2 separate regions of the Homo sapiens genome follow, and region 2 is linked to region 1. The links come from fine-mapping of genetic effects on gene expression. A gene starts in region 1. The other region holds a variant in brackets. All regions are shown on one strand. Distances are from middle to middle.

Evidence for each region. PIP is the estimated chance that this variant, and not a neighbour inherited with it, causes the effect.
Region 2: its variant is the best candidate, but not a certain one, in a credible set for the expression of DTHD1 in whole blood (INTERVAL, PIP 0.64).

What each region holds. Positions count from the first base shown.
Region 1 is chr4:36,269,393-36,285,916 of GRCh38, forward strand. DTHD1 (death domain containing 1) reads left to right here and starts at 12,224. Exons shown (of 10, transcript NM_001170700.3): 1 at 12,224-12,637; 2 at 14,584-15,199. The coding sequence starts at 12,367. LOC439933 (a long non-coding RNA gene) reads left to right here. Exons shown (of 5, transcript NR_122079.1): 4 at 3,555-3,656; 5 at 3,843-4,823.
Region 2 is chr4:36,303,514-36,320,070 of GRCh38, forward strand. It overlaps DTHD1 (death domain containing 1), which reads left to right. Exons shown (of 10, transcript NM_001170700.3): 6 at 2,678-2,839; 7 at 4,691-4,980; 8 at 12,729-12,973. Among named protein-coding and RNA genes, the nearest start is that of DTHD1, 30 kb to the left of the region's middle. The variant TA/T (reference allele first, on the strand shown) is at 9,072.

The sequences.
Region 1 (16,524 bases):
AACAGTTTGAAGTTGCATTTGAGGATGTCTCAAGTTTTTGATATTTGACATCTGTTGGTTGTGTTTCTCTCTATTGCTTTCTTGTCTATTTCATGCATTCTTTAAAAATCTTGTTTAATACATTGCTAATTTGCTCTTTTGAATGTACATTTTTAGTTTTCTTTGATCTTTATCAAACGCAAGTTTAGTCACTCCAGCTAGATGTTTAAGATCCACAGAGAGAAAAACTATTTAAGCCACCTCCAAGATTAGAACAATGCTTAGTATACAATAAACACAATCTATATTGGCTGATGGACAAATGACTCACTTTAGGGCTCTTATTCTCTGTAATATGTAGTTATACAGGTCAGCAGTCCTCATTTTTAGCCAGCAGAGATTTGGTAATACATTTGGTTCCCTACAGTGGATGACTGTTGATGATCTTGACTTGCTGTTTGCGCTATTCATGGCTCACAGGTGATGTTAATTAAAGTCGTCCCTAAATGGGCTGTAACATCAATTACTGGCCCAAATCTCACAGCTAAACTGCAGGTTGGGCATCACCACTATCACTTGGAAACAGTTAACATTGTATGGAGGCTGACACTCTACACACATAGCTACATGGCGATGTGCAAACTTTCTCAAGAATTCACTTGTCTATTCTATTTTGCTTCTTTGTTTGTGTATCTCAGAAAAGGGCATTGCCACAGCTGCTGGATTACGTAATGGTTCAAAATAACAGTCTTCAAGGTCATTCAAACACATGGCTATCTCTTTGGACCAGAATAAGAATTCCAACTTTCATTAAAAAGTCATCATAACACCCTGATTTACTCATAAATAGTCCTCGTATGAATTACCTCTTCTCAAAAAGCATACTGAAGATATTTTCTTGCGTTTGTTGTTGTTGTTTGTTTAATTTATGGCATGTCCCATGCTATCTTTGAAGTACTCCACTTTCTGGGTCCTTAAGAATGTTGAGATTATTCTCCAGGTATTAAGTTTAGATCTTATTGCTGAAATGAGACCAAGTGAAGTACAGTAAAATATTTGAAAGTCTGTTTTTTAAAAAAAAATCTAGAGTTTTTTAATAAGACTATTTTGAATATGTTAACAATCCATATCTTAAAATCTTACAGCTTATTTCATAAAATACAATCCAAGGGCTCCTTGTACTTCCAGATATTGAATTAGTAATCATCAGTTTTTTAGAAATTACTCCTTTTTACTATTCTAAGCTATCTTTAACATTTTGAAAATTTAATGAATGAAATTGTGATTTTTAAAAGAACCCAAACAGAGGCACCAGTTTCTCTCATGAGTGAATATATTATTACTCTTGTACATTTGAAATAAGAGAAGTCCTCTAGTACTGAACATTCTGGCATATATTTCCTAGTACCATCGGTCCTTCTTAGGACATAATTGAGACACTGAGGAATTAAGTCCCTCAAGACACAAGGAAGCCACTTCCCACCAGAGGTTCTGACTTTATTGTACTATCCTGTATAATCACATGAATTCATATGGCACCATTACTGAAGTATAATGAGATCATTAACTCCTAAGCACCCAGTTTATTCTAGACTTTCAAAAATACAGACTGATTTAAGATTAAGAAGCAATTGCAACTATGTATTTGCAACAAAAGCAGTTATGAGAAGAGAGATGGGGAAAACAAATTGTATTATACTATTTAAGCTCGAATTTCCTTACTCTCACCCCCACCTGGACAAAATGGCTCTTATAACATCCACTGTCTATTAAAGTTTTTGCTTTTAAAACAAAATTAATATTCCTAAGAAACACAAATATAAAAGGTGATGTCTTTTTTTTTCCATTTCAAATATGGATCTGATTTTAAGACCTTATTTTCAAATGGCTCTCTCAGTGCTTTTGTAGGTAAGAGCCAAGAATTAAGAACAACCCTCATCTTGTGTGTTAGATAATACCACAGAGAGTTTCTCTATCCTCAGCTTTAACTCCTGTCTACTGACTAGACCTATTTAAGTTACCTAACCTGTTTAATGAGCTCCAAAAATAAATGTATATTATAGAGAAAACCAAAGGACACCCACTATTTACAGAGAAATGACACGGAGAGGGCATTTCTTCAATATGTGACCTAAATAACCCAAATCAGATTTAATTCAATATGGGAATCTGGGATTACATCGGAGCTGTTATCTGGGTCTGCCAGTAACTGCAATAACATCTTTAAACAGTAGCACAATCTTGGATAGACTCTGTCTAACAAAAATGACTTCTCCACTAGGATAGAAATTAATTCACCATTGCTCTCATTTTTATCACAAGGAGGTAAAATAAATTTTTAAAAATCAAATGCAGCTTCCTTGGAATGTTACAGCTAATTCTGAATTAAGAAATGAACTAGTTAGTAGTTATGTATTTCTGACAATGCTGAAAACAACATGCTTCTAATGATATCATTTCACATACAGACCTAACACATAGGCTGAGATGCACCTGGAAAGGCATCCCATAGAAGCTTCAGATTTTATTATTACAGGTTCATTCTTTAAAAATTCAAATAGGGCCTGGCACGGTGGCTCTTGGCATTTTGGGATGCCGAGGTGGGTGGATAATTTGAGTCCAGGAGTTTGAGACTGGCCTGGCCAACATGGCGAAACCCCCTTTTTACTAAAATTACAAAATTAGCCATGGGTGGTGTTGTGTCCCTGTAGTCCCAGCTACTCTGGTGGCTGAGGCATGAGAATCGCTTGAACCCCAGAAGAAGAGGTTGCAGTGAGCCAAGATTGTGCCACTGCACTCCAACCTGGGTGACACAGCGAGACTGTGTCAAAAAAAAAAATCAAATAATGCTGCTGAGGAGAATCAACACCTGCCAAGACTCTAATGCAAGTGGGTTTATTTGGGTGATTTTTGACAGATGACACAAGGCAGCAAGAGATAAAGGGTAACTTGGAAGATACGCTGAAAGGGGTAGATGGATGGGAAACATGGCCAGAAAGGAGATGTCGGTGATAATTTCATAATAAACATGCTAGCCTAGGGCCGGCCATGGCTGTTCCTCCCACCTATTGCCACTTGCTGAGGTTCTAGAATGTCCCTGAACCTGGTGATAAGAACAGTGATGAGGGGAAGTAAAGTAAAAAAGAAGATTGATAACATTTTCTCTTCTGATATTGGACATGGTTAATGCCTATAGTGGATATAAATAATGTAAGATAGTTGATAGCATAAGGTCAAATGTGTCAAGATAGCAACAGTCTAAGAGGGGAAATAGTTATACTCCTAAATAGCTTAATGTTGTCCATTTATAATATATATATATTCATTTTTCTGAGAAACAAATATTCTTGGAGGCTCATTGTATACAATGTCATCCTTTTAGTAATGATGAACACTATGGGGTCCTGAGGTATTCTCAGCTCATAGAAATTTAGCTGGAAGAGCTCAAATATTTCTAAAAAGCAACAAATTAGGCATTCTTTTGCATCATTTCCCTACTTCAAGATAGAGTTTTCTTGATGTTGAGGGTTGAGTTTATGCTGAATAATTTGATTCTTGCAAATTTATTTTTACAGTGCGAGGGATATTTCTGCTGACAATTCAACATTCAAAGGGATGAGTGTATGACGTCTCTAAGAGATGTCATGGAGTGCATGTAGAAGGGACTTTTTATGGAGGTAAGATGTAGAATAGGACAGTCATGTTTAATTGATGAATTTTGTTATGATTGTCCAGAAGTAAAACAGAGAACCTGGAAGTGATTTGGGAGGAATATGTTAGTGTCAACACATATGAGACCTTTTCTTTGTCTTCTTTTTAAAAAACTCTTTTTCATTCATGTGTTTCCTCTTTGTCTTTTTCAGAACTACTTCTCAAATCACTATTCACATCCTGGTAGAAGTCAAGCAATGAAGATGGCACAGAAACACATCCCAAATACTATGATACCATAAAGTATACTGTAGCAATGCATTGGCACACCCTCATTTGAACATTTGTCTCAGAAGATTTTGACAGAAGATAAAATTGTCTGGTTTTTATTTCATTGGTTTCATGAAAATTTATTTCACTGGTTTCATGTCACAGGCCCATGACTGTATAAAGAGTCATAATCTTTACAAACACAACAATGACTCACAGCGACATGTTGCAAAGCTGTAATCGAAAACACTGATGTTGATTTCAGAGGCCATTAATGGTGTTAAGAAGGCGCTTTTGTTAACCAAATAATTGAATACTCGTAATTACTTTTCAGTTCTAGTTCAGTTCTTGACACCAAAACAAGCCATTTTCTTTACATAGTGAATGCAGAACTTGCCAGTAAGAACTTTCATACTAAACTTCTATGTAAAACAAAACATGTCAAAATCAGTAACTACTTTAATGGAATGGTAAAGAATTTACTTAAACACAAAGGAATGAAAATATCTCTGCAAATATGTCTATTGACTTTTCAAATTTGGTGACTTCTTTCGAATTAATTCCCTTACGTCTGTTCCTCATCCACATAAAAATGACAAAAATGAAAGATAATTTTCCAGCCTATAATTAAATTTCTCCATTGTTGGTATATGTTTTTTCAAATACATTTTTCAGTTTTCATAATTCATATGAGAATTATTAAAAGGGAGTTAGTTGCCTTTAGGACCTTATTTGGAGCCTAATTCTTAAAAATTGTGTAAAAATAATTGTGACTTTTAAGAGACAATTGGAAATTTGAACCTGACCACATTTTTGTGATATTAAGGAATTTTATTAATTATTTTCTAGGTGGGGGAATGATATGATGATATTCTTAAAATAATGTGTGGATTGTTTATTACATTTCAACATTTTCTTAATCATCAAACATTTGTTGACCTTCTGCTGTATCTAGAGCTCTGTGATCGGGATGAAGTATGAGATATTAAGCCATTACCAGGTGGTAGTTACTCTACCTCTGTTTGAAGTTCATGCCCAGCCCATTTGTTGCTTTAAATTTGAGTTCATTCTTGAGCATGTGCCACCAAATTCCAAGCATTTTCAAATGGTGAATTACTTCTTACAAACTCAACGGAGTGTATGTTAGCCGATCTGAAGTAACCCACTTGAAGTGATGCGCTGTGTCAACCTTAATATCACCATCAAATGATCCCTAGGGAATGCAACATTTGGCTTATTTCATTTTTAACATGTGAATTTAGTTTATATCAAAGTAATATAATACACATAGTTTAAAAAAATCATATAGTATGACAACAACTTGAAAGAAAAGCAACAGATCCTTGCAGGTTGCTCTTCTTCCTCCCCAAGTACCTGAGCATCTGTCATTGTCCTCCAGCATAAGGCCGTCAGGAGCACACCTATAATTGAATAAGCAGGACTCACTACCCATTTCAGTGAGGGAAAACTCACACCACAGAGAATCCTGGGGTGTCTCAGGTGAAGGATGTTAAAAGGGACTTATAACAGGATTTGGGCTTTGGTTGGGTGACTCGACGGAAGTTTCCCGCTCTGAATTGGATGCTCTCTAAAAGTGGTTATAATCTGTGATTGGGTATCTCGATAAGTCTTATCCTTAGAGAGGGCAGACTAGAGTAATGCTAAAGATGCAATTGTTAAGAAGCAGTCCTCATTCGTATTAGCTGAGAGAGGGGAATGTTTCGTATTTTGTGGCTTGAACAATGCTCATGTGTTTAGACATGATTGTAGAGTGATTTTCAATTTGTTTTGATCCATCATAGTGCTGATGTCATGTTAATTTTTTTTTTAATGTTCAACAGAATACTAACACCTAGCTGTGAGTACCAGGACAGCTGGTAGCAACCCCAAGGCTTTGCTGGTAGTGCCAGGCTAGCTCCTGGAAGTCAGAAGTTGCTTTGTTCTTTCCCATGTCTTTTCCCAGAGGCAATCACATTAAACCTTTTAGAAGTTTCTTCTGGCACTTACCTCCAGATTCCTAATAGTTTTTCTTTGTTTTTAAATGTTTGATTTATTTTTAAATATTTGACTTCCTGCTATAGAAATAAGACTTTTTGCTCTCTTGTATCCACCCTGCTATACACATTTGCTATGTACATACCTCCTATACTCGTCCTAATAATACACATGTATCAGAATTTTTATTTTATTTTTATTTATTTTTTTTTTGAGACAGAGTCTCACTCTGTCGCCCAGGCTGGATGGAGTGCAGTGGCGCGACCTCGGCTCACTGCAATCTCTGCCTCCTGGGTTCACACCATTCTCCTGCCTCAGCCTCCCAAGTAGCTGGGACTACAGGTGCTCACCACCACACCCGGCTAAGTTTTTGTGTTTTTAGTAGAGGCAGGGTTTCACCGTGTTAGCCAGGACGGTCTCGATCTCCTGACCTCGTGATCCGCCCGCCTCAGCCTCCCAAAGTGCTGGGATTACAGGCGTGAGCCACCGCGCCCAGCCCACAATTTTTATTTTAAAGTAATTATAAACGTCTTTATTACCGTGGCTGTATAAATATTATTCATAACAGAACTATGCAATACACTATAATTATATATCCTTTTCTTTACAATTTAGTTTTTCCCAGTTTTAATAATTGTCTTTTGTTTCTGTTGCTAAATTATCAACAATTCTTTTCCTCAATTCTCTAATAGAATTGTAAAACTTCTCTTAAAATGTTTAAAACATCAGCTAATTCATGAGTTCCATTTTTTCTGCTTGCAGACAGACTTCTGAAACACTCAGGTGACTGCTGCAGTCTGGAATGGGGGCTTTCTAGGGCCACAGCATTGCTGTCACCCTGGGACTTCATCTAAAGCATTTGATTTAGCTCTCTCTCTTTTGCTGGATTTTCCATTTCCTGACTCGTATGTCTGCGTTTTTCTTGTGTCATTCTGTTTCTTGTGATAGAGTTCATCTGTGAGTAGCTTCCCAAAAATGGGTACACAGGAGATAAGTAGTTTGACATTTGCATACTCGAAATGCCCTTTCTTTCTCGGCACACCTGAATGATGCTTTGGCATTTGGCATTTGGCAACAGAATCCTGGATTGGAAAGAGGCTTCCCTCAGAATATTGAAATCACAACTCATTATTTGCTAGGTCTTAGTGTTGCTGTTGAGAAGTTCAATGCCTTTTGATTTAAATGTGACAGTTTTTTCCCTCTTTGGAGGCTACTGGAATGTTGATCCTTGGTGTGAATTTGATATGACTGGTTATGATTATTTTTTGTATATACTGTTCTGGGCTCTTTCTGTCTAGAATATCATATACTTTAATTCTGAGAAATATTTCGATATTATTTCTTTGATAATTTCATTCATTCTACTTTCTCTTTCCAGAACTCATATTAGTGGGACCACTTGGATTTAACCTTTAATTTTCTTAACCTCCATTTTACCCCTATTGTCCATCTCTTTGTCTTTTTGTTTGATGTTTTTGGGAATTTACTCAACCGCTTTTTCTTTCCCATATTAAGAAAATTCTATTATCATAATTTAATTTCTGTGAGTCCTTTCTCATTGCCAGAATGCTCCCCTTTTAAAGAAAATATTTTCGGCCTGGCTTGGTGGCTCACGCCTGTAATCCCAGCACTTTGGGAGGCCGAGGCAGGCTGATCACGAGGTCAGGAGTTCAAGACCATCCTGGCTAACACAGTGAAACCCCGTCTCTACTAAAAATACAAAAAATTAGCCGGGCGTGGTGGCAGGCGCCTGTAGTCCCAGCTACTCAGGAGGCTGAGGCAGGAGAATGGCATGAACCTGGGAGACGGAGGTTGCAGTGAGCTGAGATTGCAACACTGCTCTCCAGCCTGGGCAACAGAGTGAGACTCTGTCTCAAAAAAAAAAAAAGAAAATATTTTCTTGTCTTGTGAGTGCATTATTTCTTCTTATCCTAGACTCTGAACATGCTAATTATAGATTGATTTGATATTTTCCTCTTCCCTGTGTTTGTTCTCTTGTTTTTTTTCCCAAGTTCTTTATTTTTGTTTGTTTACTTTAGTCTCTAGCTTTATATTAGAGGCTTTTTCAAATGCCTGACCTCGTTGGTTGTTATTCCACTTAAAGTGAGGCATGAAGAGCCTAGTTTGGAAGCTTTATATGATGCAGAGCTTCACTGTGGATGATCTGGCGGGGGCAGACCAGGCTTGTGGGGTTGGAAATAGGGAGAGGGACACTGAAAGTTTCACTATCAGTAGGTTTTTCTCATGGAGTGTTCAGTTACTCCATGGAGGAAACTTTCCATTTTCTGCCTGGAAGGTTATGCTTCCCAGCTCGTGTTCTTGGAGTTGAGCAGAAGAATAGAGCAGCACCTCATAATAGAATTTCACTTAACCCTCATGGTCAGCATAGCACCCCCTCCAGTTCTCTGCTCTGCTGAGTGTTGCTGCCACGATTTATTCATAGAGAAAGTCTCTAGCTTCTGATGTGTGGGAGAGAGATTGTTGCCTGGTTCTTTGGGGCAGAAGCGAGGTATCTGGGAATCTACCTGCTCTCCAAACAGAGTTTCAGCAAAAACACCTGTTTACAGCCCTAAGTTCATCTTTACTTTCAGAGGTCCTAACTTTCTCTTATTCCGGGAACTTCTGAGATTCTGTGACAAGAACTCACCTGTTTTCCACTGTCTGGGTGCCTAGGTTTCAGCCCTGTTTGATTATTTGCTACTTGCCCATCTGCTTTTAGTCTTCCAGGAGTTTGTTGACGTCTTTTGTCTATCATTTTATTGCCCATTCTCTTTATCTTTTGGGATTTATATATTGTTTTATCCTTTTCAGGGCATCTCACTAGAAATCAGAGATGGAATATATATCTAGTCTACTTTGTTTAATCAGAAGTGCTAGCTTTGATTTTTACCATGTGGTCTTTGAAAACATTTTCAAATTGGTAAGTACATTAAAAATTTGAATATATAATTTATATTTTACTAGTCCAAAAGTTACTAAAGAAAACAAAAACAAAACAAAAAGAAAATTTCTTTTCCTTCTCCATCCACTCATCATCCAAATGCATGAGTTTATCTTAAACAGGGAAAAGATGACCAGACATTGAATATGAATGTTCAAAAGGGGAAAAATTATTCTGGACTGTAAGTACCAAAGTCTCTGATGTAGGCAACTACAGAAATTCAATGAAAATAAAATCACATTATAGAACTAATAACATTGGCTCATAATACTTCAGGCATACATAACTCTTTTGCTTACATCTAACCTACCCACCACTACCCACTATAAATGCCATGAAAAATAGCAGTCTTCATTATGCTTTAAAACTTTATTGTCTTCACAACCTTTGCAATTAATAGCCTGTCATTAATAGCCTGTCCAATCAACTGCATATTTTTATTTCTTTAGGTACTAAACAAAGAACTATCCTACTATTTGAATTTTATCTCTAATCCACTCTGATACTTTTAATGTTAAGAAAAACTGTTGTCTTTTTGACCACATAATGGTATGAATTCAAGACTGCATACTAACGTCAATGGAAGCACTGAATTTTCAGTAAGAAAGTAAAAGGAGTCATAATAACTAGTAGCAACAATGAAGATGACAATCAAATGTTAAAATCATCCAGATGAATTTCTGCAGTGAACTTCTGTAGGTGTCTTGACTGCAAATGTCTGTTCTTTCTGTGGTTAGTGACATCAATTAATGGAAAATAAGGTGCAGGAACATGCTGATGCGTGTTTTAACAAGTAAATGCAGTGTGGCCTGTGGTAGGTCTCACTTTGCAAATATTATATGTTCTTAAGAAGCCAAACAGAGAACAAGTTTAAACTTGAGGATAGCAAATGTGAATGAAACAAAGAGAATGTCTGGGTTTGTTTTTTTCTTCCTGAGAAAGGATTTTCCCACATATCTAGAAATAAATGTAGACTGCTCAAATGATCAAGCAGTATTTCATTATCAGTTTTATTCAATACTTAAAATGTGCATGGTAAATTCTCCATTGATCTCTTCTACTTCCAGGGATTCATTTACCACTTATTTACTGGTAACATTCAAATATGCCAATATTATTCTAATTTTTAAACTTAAAACACATTCTAAGGAATTTTTCTGAGTTACCTCAAACTCAACAAATCTAAAATTAAATTATCTACCCATCGAGCCCAAAATCCCACTTAAATTCCTTAATAGTCTTATAGTCTATGTAATCACCTAAATTAAATATTTCAGTCATATTCTAATACTAAGCATAGTTCTTATACTAGTGGTCAATAAATATTTCTCAAATAAATGAATGCATTTTCAATACTTTCTATTCCTCTCCCTATAATCTGATGGTTTGGTAAGTTTAGTAAGTTCTATCCACTGTACTTCAAATCCCCTCTCACGCCATCCCCTTCTCTCATCTGCTCTGTTGCTGTTTTATACAGACCTTCGAGCCTCCTAACTCTTATATCTCTGTCATCTAATACATCTGCATCTCTACAGCACAGATTTCATCACATTGCAGTCTGATTCAAATATATTCAATTTCTGTCTTATCTGTAAACCAAAATTCTAATTTCTTCTCCTCACTATCTACAATTACTGAACTCTTCATTTGTCACCTCTGACTCGTTAACTGAACCTTCCTCCAAAGCCATACTTTTACATTTTTGATCCTACTGTGTAATCTCATGCCTCCGTGACTTTGATCATATTATTTCCTATGCTGGAATATTTTTTTTCTTTTACTCCATAGCCTGCTTATCCTTTAGTTTCTAATTCAAACATTTTCCAGGCCTCTAAGCAGAATTATTTTTTTAACTCCTCAAAGCTTTTATGATACTTTTTCTTTATACTTCTGCTCTAGCTCTCAACACAGACTAAGCTTTATTTCAATAATCTGTTCATGCATCTGTCTCTTGAAATCCTAAAAAGGCCTGACCTCCAGCACTTAGTTCCTGTCCCACAGTAAATGCTATAGGAAGTTTTCAAAATTAGCATTGAATTAAAGCCATGTGTACATTATTATTGAGAATGACACATCCATTTAAGGAGTAAGAAAAGAAAATAGAATTGAATGAGTGAGTCTTTAGTTTGAGAAGATTTAAATGATCCAATCCATGAAGTGATATGAACTCATACTGCGAAAAAGGTCCCCTTTTCAGTGAACAGAAGTTAACTGAAAAATAAGACACTTAGTGGTGAAGGAGCCCCTCTCCACTCTGCAGCCACCAGTACTCAATACTGCTCCTTTCCTTCAGGGTCTTTGACAGTCTTTAGGGCAGTGGCAGTCATTCTTCATTATTTATTCTCTGGGCTTGTTTTTCCCATCTTGTCTTCCAGGTGCCCTGAGTGTAGCTCTTAGAACTCCAGGGCTTAAGATGAGATAATGTGTTGCCTGTGGGAGGGAAGCACTCCGGCTTCCACTTGAAAAGCTTTCATTTTGTTCCAGTACCCGAGGGAACATGAGCCTCTCTGGAATGTACTTGCTGCCCTCTTCCTTTGGCTTAGGTGTGTGTTCTCTCTGAGCAGTGGGATTGGAGAGAGGGAGGCAGACTGTTCTGGTTTCCTCCAAATACCCGCAAGTGCTGCATTGCATAGCCCCATATATGATGCGCTGGCAGGCAGATGGGCAGCAGTGGGGAGAGCTTGTTGTATCTGAATTTTAATTACATATGGTAAAGAATCCTTGCTAGTTTAGAGAAAGCTACTCTTCAGGTTTACTTTCTTTCAGTGAAGGGGCATTTTATCCAATTAGAGGGAAATTATCAGAGGCCAAGTTCTTATCTCAGTCTCTGCAGATTTACCACATAAGAAGATGCTAATTATAACTTCCTAACCAATGCAATAGGCTCTGCTCCAGTAGAGGAATCTTTTTAAACTCTTGGTTATAAAAATACTATACATATACACATTAATTAGAGTGAATTGTCAAGACCCCATGTGTAAACATATCCAGCTTCAACATTTATTAATTCTTACAGCAAATTTTATACCTCTACCCACCCCTATGCTCCCTGATTATTTAGAAGCAAAATCAGACATCACATTATTTCATTCATAAATATTTTTAAGTTTACAGGAATCCTGCCAGCAATATTGTTCATACAGTTTACCTTTGATTAATAAACTTCTTACCCTACCTGGAATCTGTATTTTGTTGCCTCAAAACTTGAAAAGTATTTGGTACTTCCACAGTATATTGAATTTGTAAAACTTACACAGAGAGTTGGATCATGTGAGTCAGCTCTACCCCAGTGATTAATGTATTCTGTACACAGTAGCACCCATGGTACAGGAACGCCCCTTCTTCGGTCACCTAGTAACTTTTCACTAGTCAACACCAAACTGAATAACCACTATGTTGTGAGAAAGTGCTGGGCTAGCTGACTCGGATCATCTCCTAGAGTTTAGGAGAAATAACAATCACAAAGTTTGAATTTGCAAAACCTTTAGGCTTTGCTGGCAGGAGAGAAAATACCACTTTTGGATCATAAAATGGATATGGAATACATGGGCTCAGGTAAACTGGGCCAAATATTGAAGCAGATTTGGAGACAAAACCAGATGCTAAAGCAGGCACTCTTGGGTGATGACCTTTGTGAGGGGGCTGGTGGGGCCACTTGGATGGCCACTGTGGTCTTTCTGGGTCAGGAACTCAGCAGTGCCCTTCACCAGCTGCTGGAGCACACCTCAGGCACCCTGCGTTCCACCTGCCAGCAGCTGCATGTGCTGCTTGACAAAGAGAATCAATGTGTCTCGAGAAAAGGCAAGTATTCTTTTTTTTAGTTTATTCTTTCTCTAAGAAATATTGATTAGGGCAAGATCTGAGAGGGGCTATGAGTATACCAGATAGGCTAAGATAGAGTTTCTGTCCACAAGAGACTAACAATTTCAAAGGGGAAATAAGTTGAGACAAATGCACAATAATGCCAGGGACATTGGGGCCAGTCCCATTAGAAACACATGAATGAAGTGCTTTTGGACTTCAGAAGCAGTTTAAATCCCATCTGTAGGGTGGGGAATTGAGAAGTTTGCTAGAAAAATGTAGTATTTAAGCTGAAGCTTAAAGAGTGAATTGGATTTATGCAGCAGGAAAGAGAGAGTCGGTAATTTTAGTAGGATCCAAGACTTAGAGACAGGAAAATACAGGCCACTGAGGCAGAGCTAGTAGTTTGTTTTTTATATCAGAATATAGTATTCTATCTCTAGGGTCATTTGAGCTTAGCCTTATTGATTGCAAAATTACTGGGAAGACTGGAGTGGGTTGGGATAGGGAATTGGATCCCCATGCACTGGGGCTGGAGAGGGATTCTTGGGAATAGGTCCAGTTATGGATGTGGAAAAGTACAGTAAGGCAGGAAGAATGTGGAATCTGATGAATATAATCCTAGATAACAACAGTTACTCCAGATAAGCATATAGGTGGCATCATGAAATTCAACTCTAAATAATACAGTATCAAGATAAGTGGGCAGGTTCCATCTATGAGGAAATCCAGGGTAGATGATGTTAAGAAATTCAATCTAAAGGGCAAATAGTGGGCATCAGGGAAATCTGTCTAAAGGCAGCATGACTGAGAAGCCATCAGCTGCAGCCCACAATGAGACCTTTAGCCTCTGGAGGGAGTGGAACATGGTCTTTGGCAATATAACAAGCAAATATATATTCAGAAAAAAACAAGGACTTGGTTACCAGAATAGGAGTTAAAAATAAAGACAAGTTCTCAGGTATAAGACAAAAACAAAACAAAACAAAACACAAGTTGTCAGAACTGGATCCCAAAGAAAAGCCCTGACTGGTGAAGGGATGATTTGGTGATGGCTTTAAAAACACTAAGCTATGGGGCCTTAAATTACCTATTCTTTAGTTCAGAACTGAATTCTAAAGACTAGAGAGGTACTAAGCCTGCAAGAAGTCATCAGGTGACCTCAGTAGTGAGGAGAAGCAGGATGAACAAATAGGAGAGTGGGAAGAATGATGACGGAGTGAGAGATTATATAAGATTTGATCATGCTAAGAGTTTACTTCAGAGTGAAGAAGGTTGACCTGAGTTAGTAGGCTTTGAGTAGCCACTTCAGGTTCCAATCAGAGAATTGGTATGGTCAGAGCTATTCTCTGAAGGACTAATTTGAAAATTTCCAATGCTCACAAATTCATCAGGAGGAATAGTATAAACCTAATCCAATTCTTATAGCAGTAAACTAGGCTCCAAAACAAAGCATCTACATTGGCAGAAATAATGGAGGTATGGTGTTTCTGCCACCCAAGCCTCATCTGGAGTGTTCGCCTAATTTTCAGCCCAGCATTTTAAATGGATCATTGATAAACTATTGTACATCCAGTGGTAAAAGAAGAGTTCTCAAAATCATACCAAATGAAAAACAATTGAGGGAGATGTTGACTTCAGTTCTTATTGGGGGAGCAAGAGGTTATGACATTTGTCTTTAAATATTCGAAGTATCTTTATAAGCAAGAGGGATTAGATTTACTCTTTGCTACCATGTTAAAAATGGTTTGTTGTCAATCCTACAATTGTTAAAAGAGTGACAGTTATACAATTACTTCTCCTTCAGGAGTTTGGCTTAAATGCACAGTAAAGGTCTTTGTAGGTTTCTAAAATTATCTTGCCATGTTTCATTAGATGTCAGTGCAGAAACATAATTTGGTTTAGTTTTGTATTTATTCTTTGTGTGTCCATGTATGTGTGTGTAGAAATCATTACTTTCATAGACTGCCTCATAAAAATAACTGAACATTTGGGGAGCACTGCTGCACTTCTAAAGAAAGAAGAAAAGGAGATTTGTAATTTATGCGGCATGCATGATGAATGTACTCCACAGCAGACAATGTCCTCCATTCAAGATACCAAAGCAGCAGACATTGCTGCAAGAGGGGAACTAAATGTCATAGAAACAGCTACTGTTTCTCCCACAAATGGAGAGGAAAGTCATTACACAAACCAGGTCCAGTTAGAAAAAAATAAAACACATATGAGTTCAGCATTAGTGGAAAAAGAAAACAATACATCACTGAATGGACGTGTACTGGGGCAAGAAGAGTCACAGAATAAAATGTTCCCAGATAATGCAGAAAATGAAGATGATAAACAAATAGAACACATGACTGTTGAGAACATAAATGGCAACAGGGAAGAGACTCATGGCATAATTCAGACAACAGAGACAGAAATTCAAGAGACTTCAGAAAGCCCAAGAGAAGAGATGACCACATCCTCAATAATATGTGATATCTCCAAGAAATATATAAATAGTACTCTTCCCAATGATTCAGAGAATATAAAGCACAAGAATAACATAATGGAAAAGGAGTAAGTAAATGCAATGTGGGAAGTGCTTAAGTATGCCTACTTATATGTGTGTTTCTATAGTTAGTACATGTCTTAGTTCATTCAGGCTGCTACAACAAAACATCATAAAGTGAGTAGCTTTTAAACAACAGATATTTATCTCTCACAGTTCTGGAGGCTTGGAAATCCAAAATCAAGGTGCTAGCAGATTTGGTGTCTGGTGAGGGCTTTCTGGTTCATAGAAGGTGCCTTCTTGCTGTGTCCTCACATGGTGGAAAAAGTGAACAAGCTCCCTTGGGCCTGCTTTATAAAGACATTAATCTCATTCATGAGGGCTCCACCCTCATGACCTAATCATATCCCAAAAGGACCCACCTCCTAATACCATCACCTTGGGGGTCAGGATTTCAATGCATGAATTTTGAGGAGACACAAACAGTTAGACTATAGCAACATGCATAGTATTTCCATTTCATACCTCCCAAAGATATTGTAATCAGTAATTCAGCTTAAATCACTCCTATAAAAATTTATATGGCCACTATTATTAATATTGTTTATTTCTTATAGCTTTAAGAAACAAACACATTACATTTTTTTAAAGAGGAAGGAATTGAGTAGATACGAAAGTAGTTAAAATGAGCAATTGTCCAGATCATGAATACTTTGCAAATTACTACGAGTTCAAATATAATAAGAAAAACTAGAAGACTGTAGGGTGTTAGAAGATTTGGAGAGAATGTTTTAGCCTCAGATTCACTTTATTTATATTCTCAAGAAAATCATTATGAGTTTTAAACCCGTGTCTGTAGAACTCTAGGGATTTTATGGATGAGCTTTGGGAGGTACTTAAAATTGAATGTGTATGTTCAGACCTATTTCATTTCCTTGGATATGGTCTAGAACTGTCATCAGATTCTCTAGGAGACCATAACTTCAAAAAAGTGAGAAAGACCAATCTATTTTATAAATTTTCTCTCCTGTGCAAAGAGGTAATAAGGCCCTATTTGTCCGTATAAAATAAGATATTCACAGACCATATTTTCCCAGACAAACATAACACGCTTAGAAGTGAAAAAAAAAAATATGTGTTTTGGGCATCAGACAAACTTAAATTTCACTTTCTGTTTTATTACATACTAATTCTGTGACCCTGGGCAACTTGCTTCATTTCTCAGCCTAATTTACTTATTTGTAGAAATAATATATACATCCTGGGATTATTTGGTAAGGTCAAATGAGAAAATCACTTAAACGACCTAACACCAGGCCACTTTTTCAGATATTCACACCAGGTAAATGTTAGTCTATTCATTTATTTTAGCTCCAAAAACTCTCACTTTCTT
Region 2 (16,557 bases), 34 kb after region 1:
TCTGCTTTCCTCTGTGCCAATTCCATTCTCTGACATGCTTGTTCCTCATTCTGGCAACATAGTTACATCTTTATAAGTCTAAGTTCGTAGAAAAGAGGAAGCTTTTTCCCTATGAATATGCATAAAAGTGCAGGGCCTGATTCTCACTCCAGATCTGTCACAAATCCATCACTGAATGGATCACTGGAACCGGAAGACAGATATAGCACAGATTAGCCTAGGTTATGGCATGATAGCAAAACTCTCAAATCCCAAGGGCTTAAATGACAATCTTTGCATCTGTCATGGCCATCAAAGGTAGGCTGCTTCTTGGTCATCCTCACTCTAGATAGAACAGCCACTGTTCGGTTGCTATCACTGTGGCAGAAGAAAGACCTTTGGATAGACCTATATTAGCAATTAAGTCCTTGGCCTCAAAGTGACACATATTTTTTTTCATTCACATCATTTACTGGAACTAGTCACTTGGCCCCACTCAACCACAGAGGCCAGGAAGTGTAACCCTGTCATGTATTCAGATCAGGGTGAAACTGGATATTCTGGTGAGCAGCATTAATGAATGACCAATGCATTATTTGGCTCAGGTTATATACCCAATGGTCCTGGGAGTAGGGACCAGCCCCACTACCCTTGGGAGCCTGTTGGTCTCCACAAATACTTTAGGTTTTGACAGAAAAGAAAGTGAATGAATGCTATCAGAAAAAAATTACATTGAAGTCAATTTCTAGTAAATGACCAATATTCTGGATTCAGTAAGAGTATAACTTCCTGTGTGAATAAATTATTAACTTCCAAGGGTTATAGAATTTACCATATCTGTGGTTATAACCCAACAGCATAAAAGTAAACGTTATTTTTCCCCTAAGCTCCTAATTTTAATCTAGCTGATCTCCTGAAGTAACCAATACAGAGTAAGAAGTTTTCAGAGTAGACATATTAAATCAAGTTCAGTTTCTAATCTGAATCTATGGGTCATAGGACAGGTCAACCTGTGAAAGTAAGTTGGTTTTTAACTTCTAGTTAAAACTAGAGTGTAACTCTAGTTCACTTGACAAATGAAGACATGAAATTCACATTCTGGTCTCCATTCACATACCATGGCTTTGTCTCTTTGTGGAGTGTAGGTAGCATCATCAGACTAGGTATTTTTCCCCAAAGATGTTCAGTAATAGGGACTTTTCTTCCTTTAGTTGTAGGGAACAGATGTTCACTTAAACGAACTCAAGAAAAGAGTTTATTGTGAGGCTAAAACAGTGAACCTCTGCTTTCTCCATCTCTAGGACTATGTGGATCCTCTCCTCTTGATTTTTCTCCTTTTTCTCTCTTAGCATCTATTTTTCCTTTCTGAATAATCTTTCTGCTTATTAATTTTCATTGACCAAGGTACCACAGAAACAGGACTGTGACAAGTTACAGTCCCTGGGCCACTTAGTCAAATTCCAAAGAAAAAGAATCAAATTGGCTGGCTGTTGGAAATTGGTATACTGTTAGTCACATGAGCTGTGGTTGGGGAAAAGTATCACATGGTACATACAGCCAATTTCTTCAGGGCCTTTGGGTGGGGCAGGCTACACAAGAAGGAAAATTGTACAAGAAAGCAAATTGGCTGTGTCTACAGCAGAAAGCAGAGTTAGAATATTAATACTATTTATGCTCACTACAATTATAAGTGCTTTAGAAATATTAATTCCTTTAATTCTATGATGTTGGTACTTGTATTAGTCCATTTTCATGCCACTGATAAAGACATACCCAAGACTGGATAATTTATAAAGAAAAAGAGGTTTAATGGACTCACAGTTCCATGTGGCTGGGGAGGCCTTGCAATCATGGTGGAAGGTGAAAGGCATGTCTTACATGGCAGAAGGCAAGAGAGAATGAGAGCCAAGCAAAAGGAGAGACCCCTTATAAAACCATCGTATCTCATGAGACTTATTCACTACCATGAGAACAGTATGGGGGGAAACTGCCCCCATGATTCAATTATCTCCTACCAGGTCCCTCTCACAACATCGCAACACGTGGGAATTATGGAAGCTACAGTTCAAAATGAGATTTGGATGGGAGCACAGCCAAACCATATCGGTACCATTATTATTTTCATATGATAGGTAAGAAAACAGACAGAAAGAAATCAAATAATTTGCCCATGGTCATACAGTTCATAAGAGGCAGAGTCACCCAGGCTTTGAAACTGGGCAGTTTTGCTCCTGGGTGTGTGCTCTTCCCTTTTTTGCTATACAACCACTCTTTGCTATTCTAGAGCATCTGGGTTTACATCAGCGAGTTTATTAATGTTTTTGGGTACTCTCTTAAATCTATTTTGCCAGTTGCAAAAAGCTTGTCATTCTCCAAAGCTCATCTCAAATATTAGCATTTTCACTTTGCAAGCTTCCCGAACCTCTTGCTTCTGCTCCTAAACCACCCTGTACGTTTCTTTAATTATCACACAAGTCACCTTGTGCTGTAATCAGATAATACTGTGTTACTACGTGCTTCTTTAGGGCAAGGGTTATATAGTTTGATCTCTGTGTTCCTGGTGCAAAGCATAATTCCTGGCACATAGTATGTACTTAATGAATTGTTATTAGATCATTCACAATGAAAGAATGAATGCATTAAATAAGATTTATATCATGTAAATTGTACCAATATCTCTTCTGTTACCATTATATAGGACAAAAATTGCCTCCATAAGAAAACCTAGGAAAAATGCCAGTGAATGTTTGAAATTACTGGGATTCAGAAGCCAAGACAGTGGTTGGTGTGGGCTTGATGATGTTGTGAAAACCATACAGAGCGGCTTGGTATCAGTTGAATTGTATGAACATTTGGAGAGGTAATACCATCAAAAACAATCAAAGTTGATGATACTCTTTCTGATGGTCATAACTGGTGTTTATAGAAATGGAATAGTAAGATTAAATTTTTATTCTTCGAATAGAAATATTAACCATTCTTTAAAGGGTACTTAAAATACAAACCAGAATTGACATGGGTATGCTATCTGTAATTTCATTTATGATAGTTAAACAAGTACTTTGGGAAAGCACTCATAACTACAGGTTTCTGCTAACTCCAAAATAGTTTTAAAATAGCACCTTCATTTCTGAAATACCATGGAGATAGTAATTAACTGTTCATATTATGCATATCTCATAACTATGTATAGATAAGCGGAATTTGTTACTTCAGTGCCCTCATTTTGCTTTCTCATTTCCATGTTTTCTAGACAGCCCATTATGAGAAGAGTTTTAGACAGATTTAAGGTTCATGAAGAGTAGCCACTCATAGAGACAGGTGATCATATATCTAAAAATAGCTTTTATTTCATAATGGGAAGTTTTACATTTATGATTGTCTTGAATCCAGTTTCCTAGGAATAGAGTCTGAGATGAAAAGCAAGTGATTTATTGAAAGAAAGCTCTTGGGTGAATCCTGTAGGGCAAAGGAGGAAGATGGAAAAAACCATGGTTTCAGATGAAGTATTTCTGTAGCCTGACACGCTCCGGGGAGCTCTGCAGTGCGAGTACCAAGGCGGCTGGCCTTACATCCCCACATTGGTCAGTCCTTGTCTATGGATGTAGGGCTGCTCTGGGTGAGGGCCTCTTTTAGGCCAAATCACTGAAGAAGAATTTGAGAATGGGTAGCCCAGTCCAGGGAAAGAGGTCTGTATTAGTTTGTTAAGGCTGCTCTAACAATGTACCACATACTGGTGGCTTAAACAACAGAAACTTATTGTTTCACAGTTCTGGAGGCCAGAAGTACAAAATCAAGGTGCTAGCAGGGTTTGTTCCTTCCAAGGGCTGTGAGGGAAGGATCTGCCCAGGCCTCTTTTCTTGGCTTGTAGATGGCCATCTTCATGGTCTCAGGGTGTTTTCTCTGTATGCATTTCTATGTGTTAAAATTTCCCTCTTTTATGACATCAGTCATACTGGATTAGAGAAGACCTTAACGACCTCACCTTAACCTGATTACTTCTGTAAAGTCCTTATCTCCAAATAAGGTCACATTCTGAGGTACTAGGGGATAGTACTTCAACATATGAATGTGTATGTGTGTGGGGAGGGTGAGACACAATGCAATTCCTACCAACGTCCATCCTAACGATCCTTCCCACCTACACAGAGATGCGTATTTTAATCCCCATTTAATTATGGTATACATTCTGCATCCTATGGAGTCAATAAATTATTGTGCTCATCTTTCTCTTCTATATTTTAAATATGCTCTTTTGTAATTCTAATTAAAATATCACTTAAAATATGCTGCCATGTTTAGAGCTGAGCTGAGACTGTATGACTTCTTCGTTTAAGAACATGTTTTAGAATTTATTTTGATTTCAGCTGGTTTCTTTTTTTATTTATTTCTTTTTTTACAGAGATTGAGTTTTGCCATGTTGCCCAGGCTGGTGTTGAACTTCTGGGCTCAAGCGATCCACCCTCCATGGCCTCCCAAAGTGCTGGGACGCCTCCCAAGTGGCATGAGCCACTGTGCCCAGCCTGAGCTGGTTTCTTGATGGCCAAGAGTTTCTTTACAATCATTAATGAATCTCACCTGTTGTCTTTGAGAATACTTGATTTTAAAAGACGTCTGTTTGATATGACTCTTTTCTTGGGTGTTATTAGATATCAGTGATGTTCTTGACACTGCATTTTTCCCTGGGGTCTCACCTCTTTCTTCCATGCAGGTTTATTGTACTTCACCTCTCTTCCACCATGGACAATAGTCATTTGGTTACTTTTGTGAAATCTTTAGAGGAAGCCATGCTCAGCACCACTGCCTGCATAGTACTGTCTCACCAGAAGGACAATCCACATAGAATAGCTGTTTTAGTGGTGCCTTCCAAAGATTTAAGCCAGGTGCTTAAGGACCTGCACTTGGAAGGGTTTGGAGGACCTCCAGAGCCATCTCGTCATTTCCAAGTTCGAGAAGGAGAACAACTTCTTTTAAGATTTACTGGAAACATATTTGCTTCAAGTAAGTATAAAGAAATCTTTTTATATATTTTATTGGCTATAAGCCACAAGCTCTTCAGAAGAGTTTGCTAAACTTGTGTTACTAAGGAAACCTTCAGAGGATTGACGAGAGACTTTAGGAAGTAGGAAGAGAAAAAGACTTATTTATTATACTTTTTTTGTTCCTATTTCTTTATTCTCTACTTAGGGAATGCATGTTCCTTTATGGGAAGATTCTAAGTGACACTTTTTAGAAATAGCCTTCTTCACAGTTACTATCTGAGTCCAAGCTAGGATTATCTCTTTCCTACAGGAGTAAAGTTGCCTTCTAAGTGCTTCCATTATTGGCCATATGAAATCAATTACCATGTGGTAATAAGAGTGATCATTTAAAAACATAAATCATACTATATTATACCAGTGATTACAACCTTATTTTTACCTCCTATTCTATCTAAAATAATATCCAAACTCTTTAAGATGTTTTACAAAGAATCTAACCTGGGGGTCAGTGGACTCCCAAAAATGTGTGAATAGATCTATATTTCAGTATTATTGCTATATTTTTTATTCCATGTATTTTATTTTATATTTTTCAAAGACTACTCTGAGAATCAATGGACAGTTTTCACCAAACTCTAAAGGAGTCTATGGGAAAAAAGAAATTAAGAATAATTGATCTAGGCTGGGTGTGTGGCTCACGCCTGTAATCCCAGCACTTTGGGAGGCTGAGGCAGGCAAATCACTTGAGGTCAGGTGTTTGAGACCAGCCTGGCCAACATAGTGAAACCTCGTCTCTATTCAAAATACACACAACACACACACACAAAAATTAGTCGGGTGTGGTGGCAGGTGCCTGTAATCCCAGCCGCTGGGAGGCTGAGGCAGGAGAATCACTTGAACCCGGGAGGCGGAGGTTGCAGGTTGCAGTGAGCCGAGATCGCAGGTTGCAGTGAGCCGAGATACCTTGCTTGCTTCTTTTCCCATATTTCTCTAGTGCTATTTTTGTTTTCACTCTAAATCTTACCACAATTTGAAATTATTTAATTAATTTATTTACTTTTTGTTCATATAGTTATGCTATGTCCTTTACCCTTCACCGGAATGAAAACTTCATGAGGGCAATGACCATGTCTTTCTTGTTAATATATCCTCTGAGCCTAACATAGGAACTGGTATATCCAAAACTTTTTTTTTCTTTACAAAATGCTTTATTTTTTATATCAACCCAACTAAACACTGACACCAGTAATGTATTACCAGTTATTGTACACTTTAATCAAATACACTGAAGAAATATCATTGACTGACAAATAAACTATCATCCTCATTTTTTCTGTACAATGTTTGATAGATTTATATCTAGAGAATGATTTCAACAACGAGTTTTTCAGCCCTTGTAGTCTCCAGTTTCTATTGTTGCCATCCTCATGTCCATGTGCACCTAAGGTTTAGCTCCCACTTATAAGAACATGCAGTATTAGGTTTTCTGTTTCTGCATTAATTTGCTTAGGATAATGACTTCTAGTTGCATCCATTTTGTTGCAAAGGACATGATTTTGTTCTTTTTTGTGGCTGCATGGTATTCCATGGTGTATATGTACCACATTTTCTTTATCCAGTCCACCATTGATGGGCACGTAAGTTGATTCCATGACTTTGCTATTGTAAATAGTGCTGCAGTGAACATGCAAGTGCTTTTGATAAGTGTGTAGTGAATGAATGATTATATGACAGTGATGAGGAAAGCAAGCAGGATGAATATGAGAGGTGGCAGGAGAGATTACAGAAGTGAAGGAATAGATGAGACTAAAGAGTTCAAAGGAAAGAGATGAAGAGAAAGAGAAAAGGAAGAAAAAGAACAAGAAGAGAAAACAGCTGTGTGGGAATAGAGAGGAAACGTCTTTGAAAGAGTTGCCATCACAACAATTTCTTTTTCATTAAGCCAACACCTTCCTCTTTCTAACTGCTTGCCCTGTGGTGGAATAGAATCAGACAGGTGTGTGTGTAAAAATGAGGTGAGAGGGAAAATTCCGGACAGGTTTTATGAAGATTTCTGTTCCAGGAGGCTTTCTACATACTTTACTTGAGGGGATGTGCTCCGTTTACTTATAAATTAATATGGATCCGATTTAATTTTATTATGCCTATTTTCTCTCTGATTCAGGAAATAGCTCCAAGCTTCATTGGTTCTTTTTTTGCTTCAAAAAAGGGACAAGGCTTGAAGCTGATGCTGCCCTCCCAGCTTTTTTGATATCTCAGGAATAAGTGAGACCTAAAGTGTCCCAATTTTAAGTGTCTATTCTACTGTCACATACAGGATCTCAGCATCTGAGCCAGCTGACGGGACTTAGTGAGCAAGTGACAAAGATGGCAGAGAAGGGGGCAGGGAAGAGAGAGGAGGGAGAGGAAGGAAGGGTGGAAGAGGCCCCTTCCTACTTGGCTTCCGGAGCAGAAACCACAGCGTCCACCCTGGAGAAATCTCTCTACTGAGACATAGTACTAAGCAGAAGGGTCCCACCCAAACGAATGATGCAAATGATTTTCCTGTAATACTGTGGACAGCAGCTGTGTTTACCAACCACCCTAAATAGGAGTGCATTACTGTTCTACTCACAAGCAGTGGTACTGAATATCCCACTGCCTGTTGTGGAGACCGGGGAGCACGTGCTAAACCAAGAGCGTCCAAGGCAGCCGTCACCTGTGCAATTCCTCCCTATAAGGGTTGGGGAAGAGTTCATCTTCATTCAGGGAAAATGAGCAGGCAGGATACCCAGATCCTGGGTTTGCTTTTCCTAGGGAGACAGGCTCAGATCTGGAGCCTCACTGGGTTTTTCTCTGCCTAAGAGGGAAAAGATCCTCAGTAAACAATTGATACCTCATCCTGGTAAAAGCATAGATCCATCCTTTTATCAGGGCCTAGCGTAGTCTCTGTGAATCTCAAAGAGATAAAGCTAGAGATTCTCTGCCTGGAGGGTTCTCCTCGCCCTCCCCACCCCCACCCTCACCCCCAGTTCTCTCCTGCTGTATCTTCAGATCTCACCTCAACTATCATGTTCTGAGAAGCTTTCTCTATCCTTCCTGATTATGTCAGACCTTATTTTATTTTTTAATAGTTCTATTATACTTTTGCAGATCCTCCTTTTTTCATTTGTGGCCTTTGTCACATGCAATTTTCTATTTTTTCATTTAATTGTTTGACCAATGCCAGTTTCTCCTACCATGGTCACATCCATGGAGGCACTGTCCTGCTGGTGGGCAGCATTCAGTCTCCATCCTATTGGAGGGCAGCATTCAGTCCCCAGCACCTAGGGCAGAGCCTGACAGTTAGAATAAACTCAGTATTCATTGAAAGAAATGAAGACCAAAGTTTAGAAAAAAAGCATTATAGTATTAAGTGCAATTAAAAGTATTTAAAACTTTAATTAATAAATTTAGATTACTGCCTTTGAGAAATGCCAAAATCTCTCTATTCACTTATAGAGAATATGAATGACTTTTCAGTGAAGGTCACAGGACATGGACTGTATTTCTATCTCTAATAGGAAGGAAGATGGATAGGTGCGTCCTTTGGTTTTTATGACGGTTTTTGGCATTCTTCTGGAAACAAGCTACAGCAAGCTTTCATTCTCTAGGTTAGAGTTGTCAGTTTAGCACTTGGATTATTGCATGTTATTCAAGCCCCAACTGCACACAAAATCCAGAAAGTGCCAGGAAGTGTTTTAATATGATTTTATATAATGACACCATGGCATCATCCATAACATCTAGTAATGCCCTGTGAGGTCTGCCTTTTAAAGTTGCCCTGAATGCCCTTTGGCCCAGGGAAGTGATTTTTCTAGATATTCTATAGGATGTATCTCTACATCTATCTCTACACCTATATAATAACCATTCTTTAATTTGCTCAACAAAAATTTGTTGATCTTAGGTATATTAAAGTCTAATGAAGAAAGACAGAGAATAAGCAAATAAGTAAATAAAATGCATAGCTTAATTTGGGCTGAAAAGTGAATTATAGAAGAATAAAGCAGGGAAAGGATAGGGGGACCTTAAAGGGTGTAGCAGGCTTGCAGTTTTATCTCAGGGAAGACCTTTCTGGAAAGGTGACAT[TA/T]AAAAAAAAAAAAAGTCTCTAAGCGGGTGAGGAAGCAAGCCATAATCCTATCTCAGGGAGTTTATCCCAGACAGAGGGATTGCCAGTGACACTGAACTCGGTGGCAACTTGCCTTGTGTGTATGAGGAACAATGGGAGCCTGAGATGGCTGGATCAGAGGGAGTGAGCACAGGTTGTGGGAGATGAGGTGAGAACTGATCATGCCTTGTAGGCCATTGGAAAGACTGCCTTTTCTGCTGAGTGATTTGGGGAAACATGAAGGGTTTTCAACAGAGAAGTGATCAGAGTTAGATTATAACTGCGTTGAGAATAGGCTTTAGAGCAAGAGGAGAAGCAAGGAGATCAGTTACTGTTTAATTGCAGTAAACCAGGCAAAAAATGGCATGGCTTAGAGGTAGAGCTGGTGGGGAATGGGTTACAATATAGAAATACACTGAGCCAGTGGTTCTCACAGGGTTTTTCTGGTTTCCCGGACTGCTAGCACTTTCAATTTTTTAAATATGACTTCCCTAAGCAAAAATATTTATTGTTACATTTGTATTTTCTATGTCATCAATGAAAAATATTTAATGCCCATTATTGAGAAGAAAATATATTGCTATAAGGGACAGCAGGTAATCCACAAAATATAAGTACATTCTGGAACTTTTTACATGACAAGTATTTACTAAATAGCTACTATCTCAAGACACTTCTAGGGGACTATATACTTAAGATATTGAGAAAAAGAAAAAGATTCTCAAAAGGTCAATTACTGGTTGATTTTACACTTTGGGTATGGAATGAATGAGTTTTTCTTTTATTTCTCCTTTAAATATGCCAGTGAGGGAGGAAAAAAAAAAAAAAACAGAGTAGTGCAGTTTCTTCATGCCACTTCTCTTTTTTTGGATTTATTTTTTGTTCAGGGGCCAGGAGTCTTTAAAATATATTATTATGCCTTAACAACAATGAAACTCCAACTTTCCAAAATTACATAATGGTTTCTGTTTACAACATGAAGATTATGCTATTTACTGCTAGTAAATCTTCAATAATTTCATCCCAACTACATATATAAATGTGATCTTTAGAGAGTTGCCCTAGAGGTCTTTAGTTTTAAAAATTGGTATACATTTTAGGTCTCAATTGAACCAGTGTGGCTATGCCTCACCCTCAACCCTTATATCCTCTGTGTAAACCATTTCTTATGAATAATTGTGCCCCCGGCAGAGAGTATAATGTCTTTCAAGGGATAGAAGGGGAAATTTACTAATTGGTATTCCACAGGGACCAAAGTAGTAAAAGTTTTCTTGACAGCACTCTAGTAGTATGGAAACAGAAGTTAGCCAGATGTTACTCCAGTGAGCTGGAAACCCCAATTTACCTAATTTACTATTTAGATAACATTTAAATGACCCCAAATAGTCTACTTTTTTTTTTTTAACCAAAGTGAGACACTCTTAAGAAGACAAACCCTGGCTACTCATTTGTCTCCTAGGAATCTGTTTTTTTTTTTTTTCTTTTTTTCCAAGTAGCCAGGTTGCCTCTCAAATATAAACTTTTGCAAAGGGATCTACTCCTACACCATCTGTAATCTGGAGTTATTCTATTTCTAGATTTAACTGAGCTTTAGAAAAATCACCAAAATGATCTCAAGCAGTCAGGACCGGGAGAAGGGTCATGGTATCTTCTACATCTCTCACTGAAGTCTTTGTTCACTGGGCAAAATGGAAAGTTTTCCATGAGGGAGAACTCTGGGCAGTCAACTGCATGCTGGCTTACAATAACCGAAGGAAGTTTCCATGTAGACATGAAAGCTAAATCTTGGCCAGGTGCGGTGGCTCATGCCTGTAATCCCAGCACTTTGGGAGGCCAAGGAGGGTGGATTGCTTGCCTTCAGGAGAGTTCGAGACCAGCCTGAGCAACATGGTAAAACCCCGTCTCTACAAAAAAAAAAAAAAAAAAAAATTACCCAGGCGTGGTGGCCCACATTTATAGTCCCAGCTGCTTGGGAGGCTGAGATGGGAGGACAGCTTGAGCTTGGGAGGTGGAGGTTTTAGTGAGCTGAGATTGTGCCACTGTGGAGCTGTGTCATTCCAGCCTGGGTGACAGAGTGAGGCTCAGTCTCAAAAAAAAAGAAAAGAAAAAAAGCTTCGTCTTGACATTTCTTTAAACAATCTGAGTTTTTTTTTTTTTTTTTTTTTTTGCATGCAAATTCCAAATAGTGGAAGAATCCTGCCTCTTATCATTTGCTATCATTGCTGTCATTTACTGAGCACTTACTGTGTGCCAGGCCCTATGACAATTATTTTATCCAAATTTTCTCATTTCATTTCCTAAACAATCCTAGAAGTTAAGCTTTATTTCTCCTGTTCTAAGGGTAAGGAAGCTAAGGGAAGCTCAGGCTCTAAGAAGCTCAGAGATATGAAAAACAATGGACAAGTATTAACAGATAAATATTACAGAATACACAAATCATAGAGGCTGCACTTGAACCTAGATCTATACATCCAAGACATATCATCTTAAGTGCTACATTATAGCTTCCTACAAATTTTACAAATTTTGATGTAGACATATATTGCCTTAGGAAACATGGTAGTGTTTATTCTACTGTTGAAATAACAACGTGAAATATCCTGATTGTCATGATAAAACCCCAGTAAGTGAAAGGTTATGTTCACAAAAGCTCTAGAATTTTCAGTAAGGAGTTGATAAAACATTTATATATTATCATTTTAGGAGAATCTGTCAGGTTTTCATAGAAATTTCAGTAACACAAATTCAATAACTATTACACCTGAAAGTTCTAGATCAACACTGTCCAATTCCACACTTGTGGAAATGTTTTATATCTGTGCTGTTCATTACGGTAGCCATTATGCCTATGCTGTCATTGAGACTTTTAAATGTGGGTAGACTGACTGAGGAGTTAAATTGAGTTTTATTTACTGTTCATTAATTTTCATTTAAACTTAAATTGCCACATGTTATAGGAGAGTGCAGTTCTAGAATGTCTATTGTGAGGTCACAATATGAATAGTTAGGGGAAAGGAAAAAGATAATTCTCAACGGGTGAAAATAATTTTCTAAATGCTGCAAAAGCTGAATATTTCAAGTAGTTTCTGGTTATATCAAAATGGAATAGAGAAAGAAAAGCTAAAGATTACTTGATTTAGAAGCAGCCAGAGAGCACCTGGCCCAACAACCGATGAGAAATCTTTCGAGTAATCTACATGGTCTCTGCCTATTGCTCCTTTGTCAGGTTATGTTTTGACAAAAGACAATGATACACAAAAGTTTTAATCGTATTTTTAAAATAAAATAATTATTTGGATTTTTTAAAATTAAGTAACACAAAGTGGCACATCTTTTTCGTTTGTTTGTTTGAGACGGAGTCTCCTTCTAGCGCCCAGGCTGGAGTGCAGTGGCGTGATCTCCGCTCACTGTAAGCACCGCCTCCTGGGTTCACGCCATTCTCCTGTCTCAGCCTCCCGAGTAGCTGGGAGTACAGGTGCCTGCCACCACGCCCGGTTAATTTTTTGTATTTTTAGTAGAGACGGGGTTTCACCATGTTAGCCAGGATGGTCTCGATCTCCTGACCTCGTGATCCGCCTGCCTCGGCCTCCCAAAGTGAGATAACTTAATGGTAATAAATACATTTTACTTCTATTTAGGCAACGGGAAGGATTATGGAAAAGACTACACACTTATTTTTCACTTGCAAAGAAAACCTAGGCTGGAACTCCAAATCAAAGAAGTGGACGAATTTGGAAACTATAGTTGCCCTCATTACAAAGGCACCATTGTCGTTTATAAAGTACCTAAAGGAAAGATAGTCCCCAACTTGAATCAATCTCTCGTAATTAATGAAAACCATTCTCAGTTGCCAATTTGCAAATTACCATTGAAATTGCCAAAGGTGAGTTATTTTACTTTTCTAATTACTACATTTTGTTAATTATTTATAATTCTGTAACACAATCAGTTTTTCAGTCATAGAGACACATACAGTTAAAAGAAAAGGTAAGAATAGAGGTAATAAAGAAGGAGTAGGTAGGTCCAATTTTAGAGTATTAGAAAACATGTTAGGATTTCTCCTTTTGTTCATATCAGCCTTTCTAACAAGAATGCTTCAGATTGGTCTGGTCCCCACAGCATGTTGTTGCTAACTATGAAAATAATGTCATTCATTTTCTGTAACTGCCTCTGAGTCACTGGAAAATCATTTATGAAAAAAATACATTACAGAGCACATCATTTTAAGGAAAAGTCATGGTGAAGAGAAAAATGACCTCAAAATATTTATACTGAAACTTACCAGATTCTGCATGGTTGTTTCATGAGTTATGTTTGCCTAAAATTCTTACTCATGTCAGAAAGTAGGATTAAATTATTTCTTTGAACATGTCAAACACACAAATAAATACATTTTATTGCTGTATATTACAGTTTATTTCAGTGAAACAGGACTTGGTGAATCTAAACTACCTTTTTAACAAGAAATATAACTGAAAAATTTACTTCATTAATCTTGAGGTAAAAACAAACTTCTTATTCTTTAAAGAAAGCTAAAATCATTTTCCCACATTTATATTTTTTGTCTATGACTAGCAGGAATGTGTTTTCCATGCGGTTAGATTTTGCACTGATTTAAAATAAATCATTAAAGTAATTTAGCAAATATTAATATTGAACTTCTGAAATAGGGGATGTGCTGCGCTAGGCTTTGTGATAAATACAGAGCTGTAAAGGATAATACATGCCCTAAAGCTGTGTTGTTCTGAATGGTCACTACTGCCCATATGTGGCTGTGGAGCACTTGAAATATGGCTAGTCTAAACTGAGATGGGCAGTAAGTTTAAGATACACACTGCATTTCAAAGACTCAGTACAAATAATATATAAACTATCTCATTAATAATTTGTTTACATAGACTACATGGTAAATTTATATTTTGGTTATATGAGGTTATATAAAATATATAAAAATTAACTTCCTCTTTTATTTTTTAAACATCTTAAATAGTTACTATTAATAGAATATTTTAAACTACATATGTATCTCAAATTATATGTCTATGGAATAGTGCTTCTCTAAATGAATTTATAATCCAGTGAATAAGTACACAAAACAATACACAAAATTACGTTGTAAAATAGTAACTGATTGAAGTTATATTTAGGTGATATAAACAGTGGTACTAATAGTTGGTACTAGATGGTACTAATAGTTGTTCAGAGAAGGGAAATGGCTTTTTTATAATCTGTAACCAGTAGAAGTTTTGTGGTGTTTGTGGCATTTTATCTGAGCTTTGTAAGTTGGTGGAAATTCAGACAGTGGAAATGAAGAAAAAAGGCAAGTTGGGGGAGAGAATATAATGCATTTGACCGGGGTGGTAAGCATAGCTTAGCAGGAATTCACAAGTTGTGTAATAACCATTGTAATAATGTCTAATATGCCAAAGGCCTTTCAAATACTTAACATGCATTGTATCACTAAACCCTCACAGAAATCCTATGATACATAATTGTTCTTATTTTATGGGAAACTGAGGCACAGAAATTTTAGGCAATTTGCCCAGGTTCTCATGGCTAAGTAAATGGCAGAGCTAAAATTCAGACCCAAGAAATCTGCTTCCTGTGTGTTGAATGGCTATTATGCTGTCACTTTGTTAGCACATAAAGCTAGGATTATTAGTCAAAGATACAAGATGGATTTTAGGGCATCCAGGTACACCTTTGATGTTGTATGATGTCTGTACTATGCTTTAGTACAGAGATAATATTAGAAATATTTAACAAATGATATGACCTGGACACCAACCAGTGAACTTGAAAGCAGCCCTCAGTACAGAGGAACAGTCTCCTGGCGACATTAACTTTACTTGCTGTTTTGGGGGAGATCCCGTGGTCCATGGGAAGCATGCATAAGTAGAGGAATTTATTAAGCCATTGATACTGAAAATGAGGCTTTGATGACAGTATAGCCAGCCAATCTGGTGTACATCTATCAGTTTTGCTTCTGTGCATTTTCTTTTTCTTTTCTTTTTTTTTTTTTTTTTTTTGAGACGGAGTCTCGCTCTGTCGCCCAGGCTGGAGTGCAGTGGCGCGATCTCGGCTCACTGCAAGCTCCGCCTCCTGGGTTGACGCCATTCTCCTGCCTCAGCCTCCCGAGTAGCTGGGACTACAGGCGCCCGCCACCACGCCCAGCTAATTTTTTGTATTTTTAGTAGAGACGGGGTTTCACCGTGTTAGCCAGGATGGTCTCAATCTCCTGACCTCGTGATCCGCCCGCCTCGGCCTCCCGAAGTGGTGGGATTACAGGCGTGAGCCACTATGCCTGGCCTCTTCTGTGCATTTTCATTTCCACCATAAGACTTTGCACCATACGGCCGTTACTTACGCATGCGGCAATTTTCCCTGAGATAGTCCCATAGCTGCTTCTTTATCATTCAGGGCTCAGCTCAGATGTCACTTGTTATTCTTATTCCCTTATCTTCTAATCTGAGGTCACTTTTTTAACTTGTTACCCTTTCTCGATTTACTTCCTAACACTCATCATTGATATTTTTAGATTTATTTGTTCATGTATTTTCTATTTTCCTTTGCTTCTTTAAAAAGCAAACTCCATGAATGAAGGACCCTGTCTATTCTATCCAGGTTCCTTCTTCTGTGATTAGAACAGTGCCTGGCACATAGTAGGCACCCTAAATATCTATGACTTGGTGAATAAGGGGAGGTCTATAGCTGTCTCCAGATTCTAAAAGTTTAAGAACTATTGACTTGAAGGAATACTCAAATTCTCTCTGTTCCGTAGTTTAGAGCCTGATTCTACAAACTCTTAACTGACAGGCTAAGGCATCGATGTGGATCAGCATGAAGATGTGGAGTGGAGAGGGGTACCTAAGGGCTGCTCTCCAGGCAGCTCAGCTGGCACATTGCTTCCAGAAAGCCTCACGTTGCTTTGCTGCCATAAGAGGATGAAAGGGAGACAAGCCAGTGGTGGTTGGAATTCTCTGGCAAGAGGCGGTAAGGGCCTTACTGAGATGATGGCAGACCATGCAAAGAAAGGCCGTTATGTCAGAGACGACAGACATGAAGTCCAAAAATGTGATAGGAATTCAGCTTTCACTTATTAGTGTTTCCTCTGTTGCCTGACTTTATAAAAGTAGCCAAATTAGTCAAGCCAAATTAGCCAACATAGATAATTTAGGGGTTTGTATAGATTTTCCTCAGTAAAAGTCTGTGTTTACGATTGTCCAGTACTTTTGCGTCAGCTTCTTCTCTGTTTTGCTTGTAACACACCATTCCTTACCTATGTGCCTGAGTAATTCTTACTGAACCTCTTTCACATCGGTGCTGAAGTGCAGCCTTGCCAAGGAAGCCTTCCCTCACTCCTCCTTTGTACCAGGTTAAGTGTTCCTGGTATATGGAGCTACGGCATTTTGTACTTTCCTTATCACTGTAGTTACCATATTTCATGACATCCACTTGCTTGTTTCC